Linked DNA regions of Homo sapiens. The protein of the gene in region 1 purifies or fractionates together with the protein of each later gene. This does not show direct contact. Each region holds a gene or a part of one and is shown in the gene's direction. Other genes may lie near its edges.

What was found.
Region 2: the proteins of APOBEC3G (region 1) and CBFB purify together in Homo sapiens (affinity purification with western blotting, with the first as the bait; one study listed by BioGRID). This does not show direct contact.
Region 3: the proteins of APOBEC3G (region 1) and USP49 purify together in Homo sapiens (affinity purification with western blotting; one study listed by BioGRID). This does not show direct contact.

Annotation. Positions count from the first base shown.
Region 1 is NC_000022.11:39,075,602-39,079,432, forward strand, and holds the start of APOBEC3G (DNA dC->dU-editing enzyme APOBEC-3G), read left to right. Parts: upstream 1-1,673; 5' UTR 1,674-1,760; coding exon 1,761-1,777; intron 1,778-3,330; coding exon 3,331-3,484; intron 3,485-3,831.
Region 2 is NC_000016.10:67,063,522-67,067,252, forward strand, and holds part of CBFB (core-binding factor subunit beta), read left to right. Parts: intron 1-3,160; coding exon 3,161-3,277; intron 3,278-3,731. UniProt on the Homo sapiens protein: Forms the heterodimeric complex core-binding factor (CBF) with RUNX family proteins (RUNX1, RUNX2, and RUNX3).
Region 3 is NC_000006.12:41,791,886-41,794,375, reverse strand, and holds part of USP49 (ubiquitin carboxyl-terminal hydrolase 49), read left to right. Parts: 3' UTR 1-2,490. UniProt on the Homo sapiens protein: Deubiquitinase that plays a role in several cellular processes including transcriptional regulation, cell cycle progression or innate immunity.

The DNA of each region.
Region 1 (3,831 bases):
CTCCCAAGTAGCTGGGATTTCAGGCACATGGCACCACGTCCGGCCAACTTTGGTAGTTTTAGTAGAGACGAGGTCTCACCATGTTGGCCAGGTTGGTCTCGAACTCCTGACTGTCATACATGTCCATATAGAAGACCACCTAAACAGGCTTTGTGTAAGCAATAATGCCATTTATTCACTTGGGTGCAACTGGGCTGAGTCTGAAAAGAGAGTCAGCGAAGGGAGATAGGAGAGGGGCAGCTTTATAGGACTTGGGTAGGCGGTGGAAAGTTACAGTCAAAGGCGGTCATCTGTTGTCAGCAGGGGAGGGGGTCACAAGGTGCATGGTGGGAGACCATGAGACCCATTGTCCAGAAGAAGAATGTCATAAGGTCGATTGATCAGTTAGGGTAGGGCAGGAACAAGTCCTAATGGTGGAATGTCTTAAGGTTGGTTAATCAGTTAAGGGAGAAACTGGCTGTTTCACTTCTTTTGTGTTTTTTTGGCTGTTCCAGACTTCTTGGCTGCTGCAGGCCATCTGGATGTATATGTGCAGTTCACAGGGGTCACAATGGCTTAGCTCTGGCTCAGCGGCCTGACACTGACCTCAGATGATCCACCTGCCTCGGCCTCCCAAAATGCTGGGATTACAGGTGTGAGCCACTGTGCCCGCCTGGGATCATATGTTACACGCATGTTTGTTCAATAAGCATGGAGTGCAGCCACCCACATGAATATTCATAGCTCCTCCTGTAGCCTGTTCAATATGTATGTTTAGCTAACCCCTTCAGCATAAAGCTCCTGCCCCAACCCCTCCTGCTTCTAAATGTCTGTCTCTGGTGTTAACCAGAGGCTGCTCTTCCCAGGCTGCTGGATGGCTACCTTGCAGGCTGTCACCCTTAACAAGAAATAAAGTGTCATTTGCAAATGCATCCCTTGTGTAATTTGTAGGTCACCACGCCATGGGAACACGCTACCAGGGGAAGGGAGCTGTGAGACGCGCAGGGAGGCTCCAGACAGGCTGGCCTGGGACACCAGCCGCTGCCCTTCCATAACATGGGGACAAGAGAGGGCAAAAGTTCAGCCCACCACGGAGGATCTCCGGGCAGGAGATGGGGAAGAAGGAGAAGCAGGAAGGAAAGAGCTCAGTGTGGGGGCGCGCATGGCATCCCGGTGGGACATCTGAGGCCCACACCCACCTGCTGTCCCTCCCTCCCACGGTGGCCTCCGAGGGTGACGGCCTGGGGGGAGGCAGACGCCTGGCCATTTACTCTCCCTCCCTGTCCCCATGGCCGCTGGGTGGGGGCCGTCTCTGGGATGATCCCCGAGGGCAGGATCCGGGAGTCCCTGCGGAGGCATCAGCCTGTCTGTCTTGATGGTGGAGAGGAGGCTCCAGCTGGGCGGGACCACCAGGGGAGGGGCTTGTGCTCTGCTGGCTCAGCCTGGTGTGGACCCACCTCCCGGGCGCTGGCTGCAATGACTTTCTCTTTCCCTTTGCAATTGCCTTGGGTCCTGCCGCACAGAGCGGCCTGTCTTTATCAGAGGTCCCTCTGCCAGGGGGAGGGCCCCAGAGAAAACCAGAAAGAGGGTGAGAGACTGAGGAAGATAAAGCGTCCCAGGGCCTCCTACACCAGCGCCTGAGCAGGAAGCGGGAGGGGCCATGACTACGAGGCCCTGGGAGGTCACTTTAGGGAGGGCTGTCCTAAAACCAGAAGCTTGGAGCAGAAAGTGAAACCCTGGTGCTCCAGACAAAGATCTTAGTCGGGACTAGCCGGCCAAGGATGAAGCCTCACTTCAGGTACCGCTGCCCGCTCTACCCACTGGGCCCCTCTGCTGCCCCTTCTTGCCTGGTGGCTCTGCTGGGCGTCAGCCCTGGCCTTCCCCTGCCCCAGCCCCAGCCCTGGGCTCCCTCCCCTCTGACTCCCCTGCACCCCCTACTCCCAGCCAGGCTCCTTGCCCTGCTGTGTTGTCGCCCCACTGCTGCTTCTGAATGGGCCGCCTCCCCCATCTGTCCCAGCCCAGGTCCCCTGCTGAGACTCTCCCCTGAAAGTCATGGCTGGGGTGGTGCTCCCGGCCCTGGGAGGGTGCTCCCTCTGTGTGCTTCCCGCCATTCCTGAACTCTGGAACTGGGAGAATTGAACCAAAGGATGAGTAGAGCAAGGTGGAATTTTGTTCACAGGGCTTTGATGGATTTTCTGTAAGATTTACTTTGCTTAAATACCAAGTCTTAGGAGAGGGTGTGGGGAGGGAATGGTCTCTGAAGCACAGGATAAATCATGTCTTCCAAGGATGTCTCCACTGTGGGCAGAGGAGGATGCAGATGACCCCAAACACACGCTCCTCCTCCACTATCAGCATTCACTGTTTATAAATGACACCAGTAACATGGAATATAGTGGCCGGGTGCGGTGGCTCACACCTGTCATCCCAGCACTTTGGGAGGCTGAGGTGGGCGGATCGCCTGCGGTCAGGAGTTCAAGACCAGCCTGACCAGCATGGATAAACCCTGTCTCTACTAAAAATGCAAAATTAGCTGGGTGTGGTGGCGGGCGCCTGTAATCGCAGCTACTTGGGAGTCTGAGACAGGAGAATCCATTGAACCCAGGAGGCGGAGTTTGCAGTGAGCTGAGGTCGCCCCATTGCACTCCAGCCTGGGCAACAAGAGCAAAACTTCGTCTTGAAAGAAAAAAAAACAAAAACAAAAGAAAAAACATGGAATATATGGGAAAAAAACTCAATGATCAGGAGGAATGTTGTTATTTTAAAATTTAGTAAGAAGAGAGCCCGGTCCCCAATGGCTGCCTCCTGCAGGGCCAGTGATACAGAGACTGGACAGGGCTGGCCTGGAAAGGGGCCCCCACTCCATTTGTCCCCAGCTCTGTGGCCTGGGCAGGTTACCCCGCCTCTCTGCGCGTCTGGCCCCTCCTCTGTAAGACGGGAATGGCCCCTGCCAGCCTAGGGCAGCCTCACATGAGCTCACCCCCGCGCAGCACTTAGAAGACTGGCCTGGGCCTCAGAATTCGGTTCTACCATGATTTAACAATAATAATATACAGAGGTGAAATGTCAGGAAGGAACTGAGCTGAAAGGTTAAAAGCTGTTATTTTGGGGTGAAGAGTTTTATTCTGTCTCTCTCTCTCTTTTTTTTTGAGACGGAATTTCGCTCTTGTCGCCCAGGCTGGAGTGTAGTGGCGCGATCTTGGCTCACTACAGTCTCCGCCGAAATTCTCAGGGGAGGGGAGGGATGGGGGAGGCCTAGAGCCGTCCAGGGGGCTGTGTTTAGTGGACATCAGCCCGGAGGGCCCCCAGGAGTGCTCTCTACATTGGCTGGTTTCTCTCTTGTGTCTTCAGAAACACAGTGGAGCGAATGTATCGAGACACATTCTCCTACAACTTTTATAATAGACCCATCCTTTCTCGTCGGAATACCGTCTGGCTGTGCTACGAAGTGAAAACAAAGGGTCCCTCAAGGCCCCCTTTGGACGCAAAGATCTTTCGAGGCCAGGTACCACCCGGACTCCAATCACTTTGCAGGCAGGAGCTAAGCCAGCTGGGAAAGCAAACCACGCACTGATAAGTGAAGTGCCCGGCGGCGGGCTATCCAGTGTGTCCTTCTCTCCCACACTTTCCAAGTCCGTGGCCCTGACCTTCCTGCTGGACCGTCCTGGGATCGGATCGTGGAGGGGGTTTGCCTCTGCACAAAAGGCCTTGTGTTTCCGTTTTTCTTTTCTTTTCTTTTTTCTTTTTTTTTTTTGAGACAGAGTTTCACTCTTGTTGCTCAGGCTGGAGTGCAATGACGCGATCTCGGCTCACAGCAACCTCTGCCTCCTGGGTTCAAGCGATGCTGTCGCC
Region 2 (3,731 bases), on another chromosome or scaffold:
ACCTCTGCCTCCCAGGTTCAAGCGATTATCCTGCATCAGCCTCCCAAGGAGCTGAGACTACAGGCACACACACCCACGCCCAGTTAATTTTTGTTATTTCTTGTAGAGACAGGGTTTCATCATGTTGTCCCAGCTGATCTTGAACTCATGACCTCCTGCCTTGGCCTCCTAAGGGGCTAGGATTACAGGCATGAGCTGCTGCGGCCAGCCAGAGGGTATAAATTCTATAAGTACTATTTTAAAGGTATCTCAGAGGTAATTTTTTTATCATGTTTATAATTATTGGCAGTCAGTTATTGTTATTAAACATCTCTAAAAACAAAAAGAATCCAAGAGTCTGAAGAGACTACTGAAATGAGTTTCAAAAAAAAGATGCTTCCAGCTTTTTCCTCAAAATGAGAAACTGTTTTACAGATTTTTATATAATTAAACAGGTAATAAATAATGCCAGATTTTAGCTCACAAAGCACTGGATTTCCCAAAGGAAATACATTTGGTGCAGGTAAATGAAAAGCCTCGTTAATAAATATATATTTGATAATCTGCAGGTTTGAAAACTCACTGAAGAATTCCCACTTCCTCTGCATTAAAAATACCTTGTTCAAGGCAGTAAATATTAACCTATGCTGGTTTATTCAGAAACTCATGTTAAACAAGGTAGAGAAGACCTAAAATTATGTGTTTTGTTTGTTTATTTGTTTTTGAGACAGAGTCTAGCTTTGTCACCCAGGCTGGAGTGCAGTGGCACGATCTCAGTTTACTGCAACCTCTGCCTCCTGGGTTCAAGCGATTCTCCTGTCTCAGCCTCCCAAGTACCTGGGATTACAGGCACCCGCCACCATGCCCAGCTAATTTTTGTATTTTTAGTAGAGACGGGGTTTCACTTTGTTGTCCAGGCTGGTCTCGAACTTCTGATCTTGTGATCCACCCGCCTCAGCCTCCCAAAGTGCTGGGATTACAAGCGTGAGCCACCGTGCCCAGCCCTAAAATTATGTTTTTAAAAGTAACTATTAGGTTAGTGTGGTATTAGGAGTGGGAAGATTGTAGAAACTGTAATAAATTTCTCTTATATTGTTTATCTCTATCACAATAAAATATTCACCTCAGGATGATAGAATTAACACCGTCCTTTCTGGGTGGATAGTTACTCTTGGGAACAATTGTATTTTGAGCCAATATGAGAATTAATTTGGTGATCAAAAATGATCTAAATTTGGGTATGATGTATACCTAAAGCAATTTTTATTCTAGAGTTATTTATTTACTTGAAAAAGAATGGTGCAGAAATGGGTTTTTGTTTTTTGTTGTTGTTTTTTATTGTTGTTGTTTCAGAAGAAAAGTTAATAAAAGTGTAAAACAGAAGTTTTCTTTTTTTTCTCTCTCTTTTTTTTGTTTGAGACAAGTCTCACTCTGTCACCCAGGCTGGAGTGCAGTGGCACTATCTCGGCTCACTGCAATCTCTGCCTCCCGAGTTCAAGTGATTCTCTTGCCTCAGCCTCCCGAGTAGCTGGGATTATAGCTGTGCGCTACCATGCCTGGCTAATTTTTGTTATGTTCAGTAGAGATGGGGTTTTGCCATGTTGGCCAGGCTGGTCTGAAACTCCTGACTTCAAGTGATCCGCCCAACTTGGCCTCCCAAAGTGCCGGGATTACAGGCATCAGCCACCGCGCCTAGCCAGGATGTAGGAATTTTCTCATGAAGCTGAAGGTTCACCAGATGAGAGATACTTTTGGTTTCAGGAATCTTGAAGATCTTTTTAAAATTTATTGGTACTTTTTTAAACTGCAGTGCATAAAGTATAGTGAACATATTTAATTTGTCAGTGACTTGAGATGTTACCATATCCTAGGATACTTATTTTCGATATTTCTCTAATGTGTAAGTAGATATACTTGTTGGATGTGATACAGTATGAAGCCTGGCTAATTTTGTCATCTAAAGGTATTATGTGTAAGGAATAAACACATTTCCATTTATTAAGAATTCAAGATGCTTGGTTAAGTTTATTCATTTTTTTATTTTTATTTTTTTACTTTTTAGAGGTGAGGTCTCTCTGTGTTGCCCAGGCAGGTCTTGAACTCCTGGCCTCAAATGATCCTCACACCTTGGCCTCCCAAAGTACTGGGATAACAGGCATTAGCCACTGGTGCCTAGCCTTTTTGTCTTAGTTGATTTTGTTATAGTATTTAAGAATTTCAACAGGGAGTTGAAATAAGTAGATTTTGGGTTAACTTACCAGTTTCTAGATAAATAATTGATACATGTAGTCAAACCCTGTGACCTTAAAACTTTTCTACTATATTTAAAAGACTGATTCACCTTACTGTTGCCTATTGGGAAAAGTAAAAAATAAATAAATAAAAAACTGTGAAATAGCTTGAATTAAATTTCATAAGTCCCATATAAAGGATAGCAGTGTTTTGTTCCGAATTATTTATGGACACCTAAAGATAACCACATACTACTTAATGTGATATAATAGTAAATATTATACCAGTTAAAGTTCTTTGGTTAAAAGCAGTAGAAATCAACTCTGGCTAACAAGACAAAAAAATAAAAAGAAAAAAAGATTAATTATCAGGAATCTGTGAGATAGCTTATAAAACTGAGGGGAGTATCAACAGCCTGATCCTGCATGCTCCAGGAACCCACGTTGAGGGAAGCAGTGCATGCTCTCTTCAGAGGGTGGTGGCTTCCAATTGTTTTCCATCTTTCTACCCAACATTCAAAAATCAAAGTGTCTGGCCGGGCATGGTAGCTCACGCCTGTAATCCTAGCACTTTTGGAGGCAAAGGCTGGCAGATTGCCTGAGCTCAGGAGTTCAGCACCAGCCTGGGCAACATGGTGAAACCCCATCTCTACTAAAAATACAAAAAAAAAAAAAAAAATTAGCCAGGCATGATGGTGAGCGCCTGTAATCCCAGCTACTGGGGAGTCCGAGGTGGGAGAATTGCTTGAACCCGGGAGGCAGAGGTTGCAGTGAGCTGAGATTGTGCCACTGCATTCCAGCCTGGGGAGCACAGCGAAACTCCATCTCAATCAATCAGTCAATCATAATTTTATTCATCTTTTCTACAGAGTTTATATAAGTAAGTTTAATCTTTTTATTTTCATGTGTCTGATGGTTTTCAATTATTTTCATCCTTTTCTGTGTCTTAGGTATATTTGAAGGCTCCCATGATTCTGAATGGAGTCTGTGTTATCTGGAAAGGCTGGATTGATCTCCAAAGACTGGATGGTATGGGCTGTCTGGAGTTTGATGAGGAGCGAGCCCAGGTAGGGTAACATCAGGCTTTATTGAGCATGGTCCCTTTAGTCCCTAATCTTGCCTTTGCCTGGGGACCTATTTTACCCAATTTTTAAGAGTAAGTATAGAAAGTATTGTGTTGAAGCAATATTGAGGAATCCTGAAAATGTTGATACTCAAATTCTGATCCTGATTTTGGGAAAGTTTTTTCTTCAGCAGTTCTAAATTTCATGGGTTATTCGTATCTGCTCAGTGGGTGCTTCAAAGTCCAGCAAGTAGCTCTTTAAAATATTTATTCTTGATCTTTAGAACACTATGAATAGGGAAAAAAGAAAAAACTGTTCAAAATAAAATGTAGGAGCCGTGCTTTTGGAATGCTTGAGTGAGGAGCTCAACAAGTCCTCTCCCAAGAAAGCAATGATAAAACTTGACAAAAATTGTTTAAAAAAAAAAAAAAAAAGCTGGACGTGGTGGCTCACACCT
Region 3 (2,490 bases), on another chromosome or scaffold:
TGGAAAATTCAAAGATCTTCCAATTTAATTTTTAAAAATAGTTTTATACCAAATATTATAAGGATTTATTAAGCAGATTAAGGACTTTGTGAAATAAGTGCTTAACTTAGCTGAGCACGCATATATCAAAGTAATAAAAGAAACTAACATCAGAGTCTCCACTGAGCTACACATTTGTGAAAGGTGCCCACTGCAGTTACAGACACCTCAGGTACCCAGAGGCGGCAGCACTGGACACTTAGGACGTTAGTATTTAAGGAGATTTTTATTAAAGAAGAGTTCCCTGCTGCATAAGCCAATGGCTATTGTGAGGGAAATGTCCCTTTGCCTTTAATTTATTTACGTACTGGGTATAGATGAATGTCTCAGTTGCATCTGAAATTGAATCATTCTAAAGAGAAGAAAATAAGAACCAGGTAAAAACTGACTAGATGCTGCCAAATCAAACCCAAGGTCTCCTAACCGAACCTTAATGGGCCTGCTTCTCTCCCAGGGCAAGTAGTTAAGAGTCTCATTCCAGGAACCCTTTGTAGTTAGTTGGCTGGCATGTTTACTTGCTGCTGTAGCCAGCCAAGATGAGTGCACCTAGGCCCTCAAAAAGGATTTTTTTTTACCTCAATCTAGCCTGACCCTCATATCTGTGGTTGCCTCTGAGACGAACATCCATGCTAGTATAAAAATAGTTAGGAATGCCCTTGGCAGAACTGAAGCTCTTATTAAATGGTGGACAGAGCTCTTGCCAGCTTTGATCCAGCCCCTCAGTCTCGGAGTTATGGGGCAGGGTTGGGGGGCAGTGCTACACTGTAAAGAATTTCCAGGCTGGGCGCGGTGGCTCATGCCTGTAATCCCAGCACTTTGGGAGGCCGAGGAGGGCGGATCACAAGGTCAAGAGATTGAGATCATCCTGGCCAACATGGTGAAACTCCGTCTCTACTAAAAATACAAAAATTAGCTGGGCATGGTGGCACGTGCCTGTAGTCCCAGCTACTTGGGAGGCTGAGGCAGGAGAATCGCTGGAACCCAGGAGGCAGAAGGGGCAGTGAGCCGAGATCGTGCCACTGCACTCCAGCCTGGCGACAGAGCGAGACTCTGTCTTAAAAAAAAAACAAAAACAAAAACAAAAAAAAAAAAAGAATTTCCAGATGTCTCTTAAAATGTCATGAATAAAATTGGAAACTGTAGAAGTGTTAATGTGTCCTATGGACTCAATAGCAGAGTTTATTTTTGTTTTTAATGGCAAGGCTTCTAGAGTCAATGATTGTATGAGTTTGCTACTCTGGCTGTGCTTACAGCTTCATCCAAGTACAAGGGAAGAACCAATGAGGTGGATTGGCTGACAGTGGGGCATGCCCCAGCATAAGCCCTAGAGAGGTCGACAGTAGTGCAGAATGAAAACTTGGTCGGGGATGGCGGGTGGTGGGTGGGAGGAGGGTGGGCTGGCCGGGAGGGAGAAATGGAGTTTGTTCTACTTACTGATAAAGCTTTGTGAACTAATTTTATACAATTCATAAAATTTGGTGCCTTGTACTCAATTACGGTTTGCATGGAATTGAAAAGATTAAGGGAAAGGATTTCTTCTTGTCATTTCAAGTGGCAAATGGGTCTGTGTAGTGTTTAAAGGACATCTGGTATCACAGACTTTTAAAAAGCATTTCATGTCTCTTGTGTGTGAATGCAAATTATTCTTACCAGCAAGTTCTGAAATTATGTTACAATGTCCAAATTCTTTGTATTTGTGACTGTTCATCAAATGGCTGCTTTTCAAGGCAGACTGTGTACTCCATTGTTTTTCACTTCCCTTGTCATGTTCCATACATTGACTTGGGCCTTTTTAAATCAGGCTGGGGGGCTACCCCTTCTTAAATGAATACTATATCCCTATCTGAGGTTACCTCTTGTGAGTGGAAGGGTTGCTTTCCCAGGTGGTTGGGAGAGCACAAATGTTGAGAAAAGGCCTTTTAGTCTTTATCAAAACAATGACTAATGCTGGGCAACATATAGCAGAAGTCAAACAAAAATGATTCCTCCTGAAATGGTACCTTCATTGGTTCTGATGTTCTTTTGCAAAAAATGTCCGGAAGCAGTATAGAAAACCCCCTGTATGTGAACCTTAGATTGTAAGGCAAGCCAGTGCACTGTGTAATATGCAAAGGGAGTGGTGCAAAAGAGAAGGCACCCGTCCCAGCTCTCCATGCCCTTTCCCTGGCAGGCGCTGACTGAGATGGCGCTGAGTGAATGTGGAAGGTGCTAAGACCCAGTCTCTTCACTGCAGGGCTGTTTACAGCCAGTTTCTTTTACTCTGACCTTAAGGTTTCCACTGAGCTCATGAAACTTCAACATATGGTGTTTAAAAGTTTCCCACTCAAATGCACACTTGAAAATTGGGTCCCTCAGCCTCATTACTGAACTAAATAAGTGAAGAAGTTGTATCTTTGGGGTAAAACTTTCCAGGGCCACTTAATTTTTTAACCAGTTAAGTACGCATCTTCC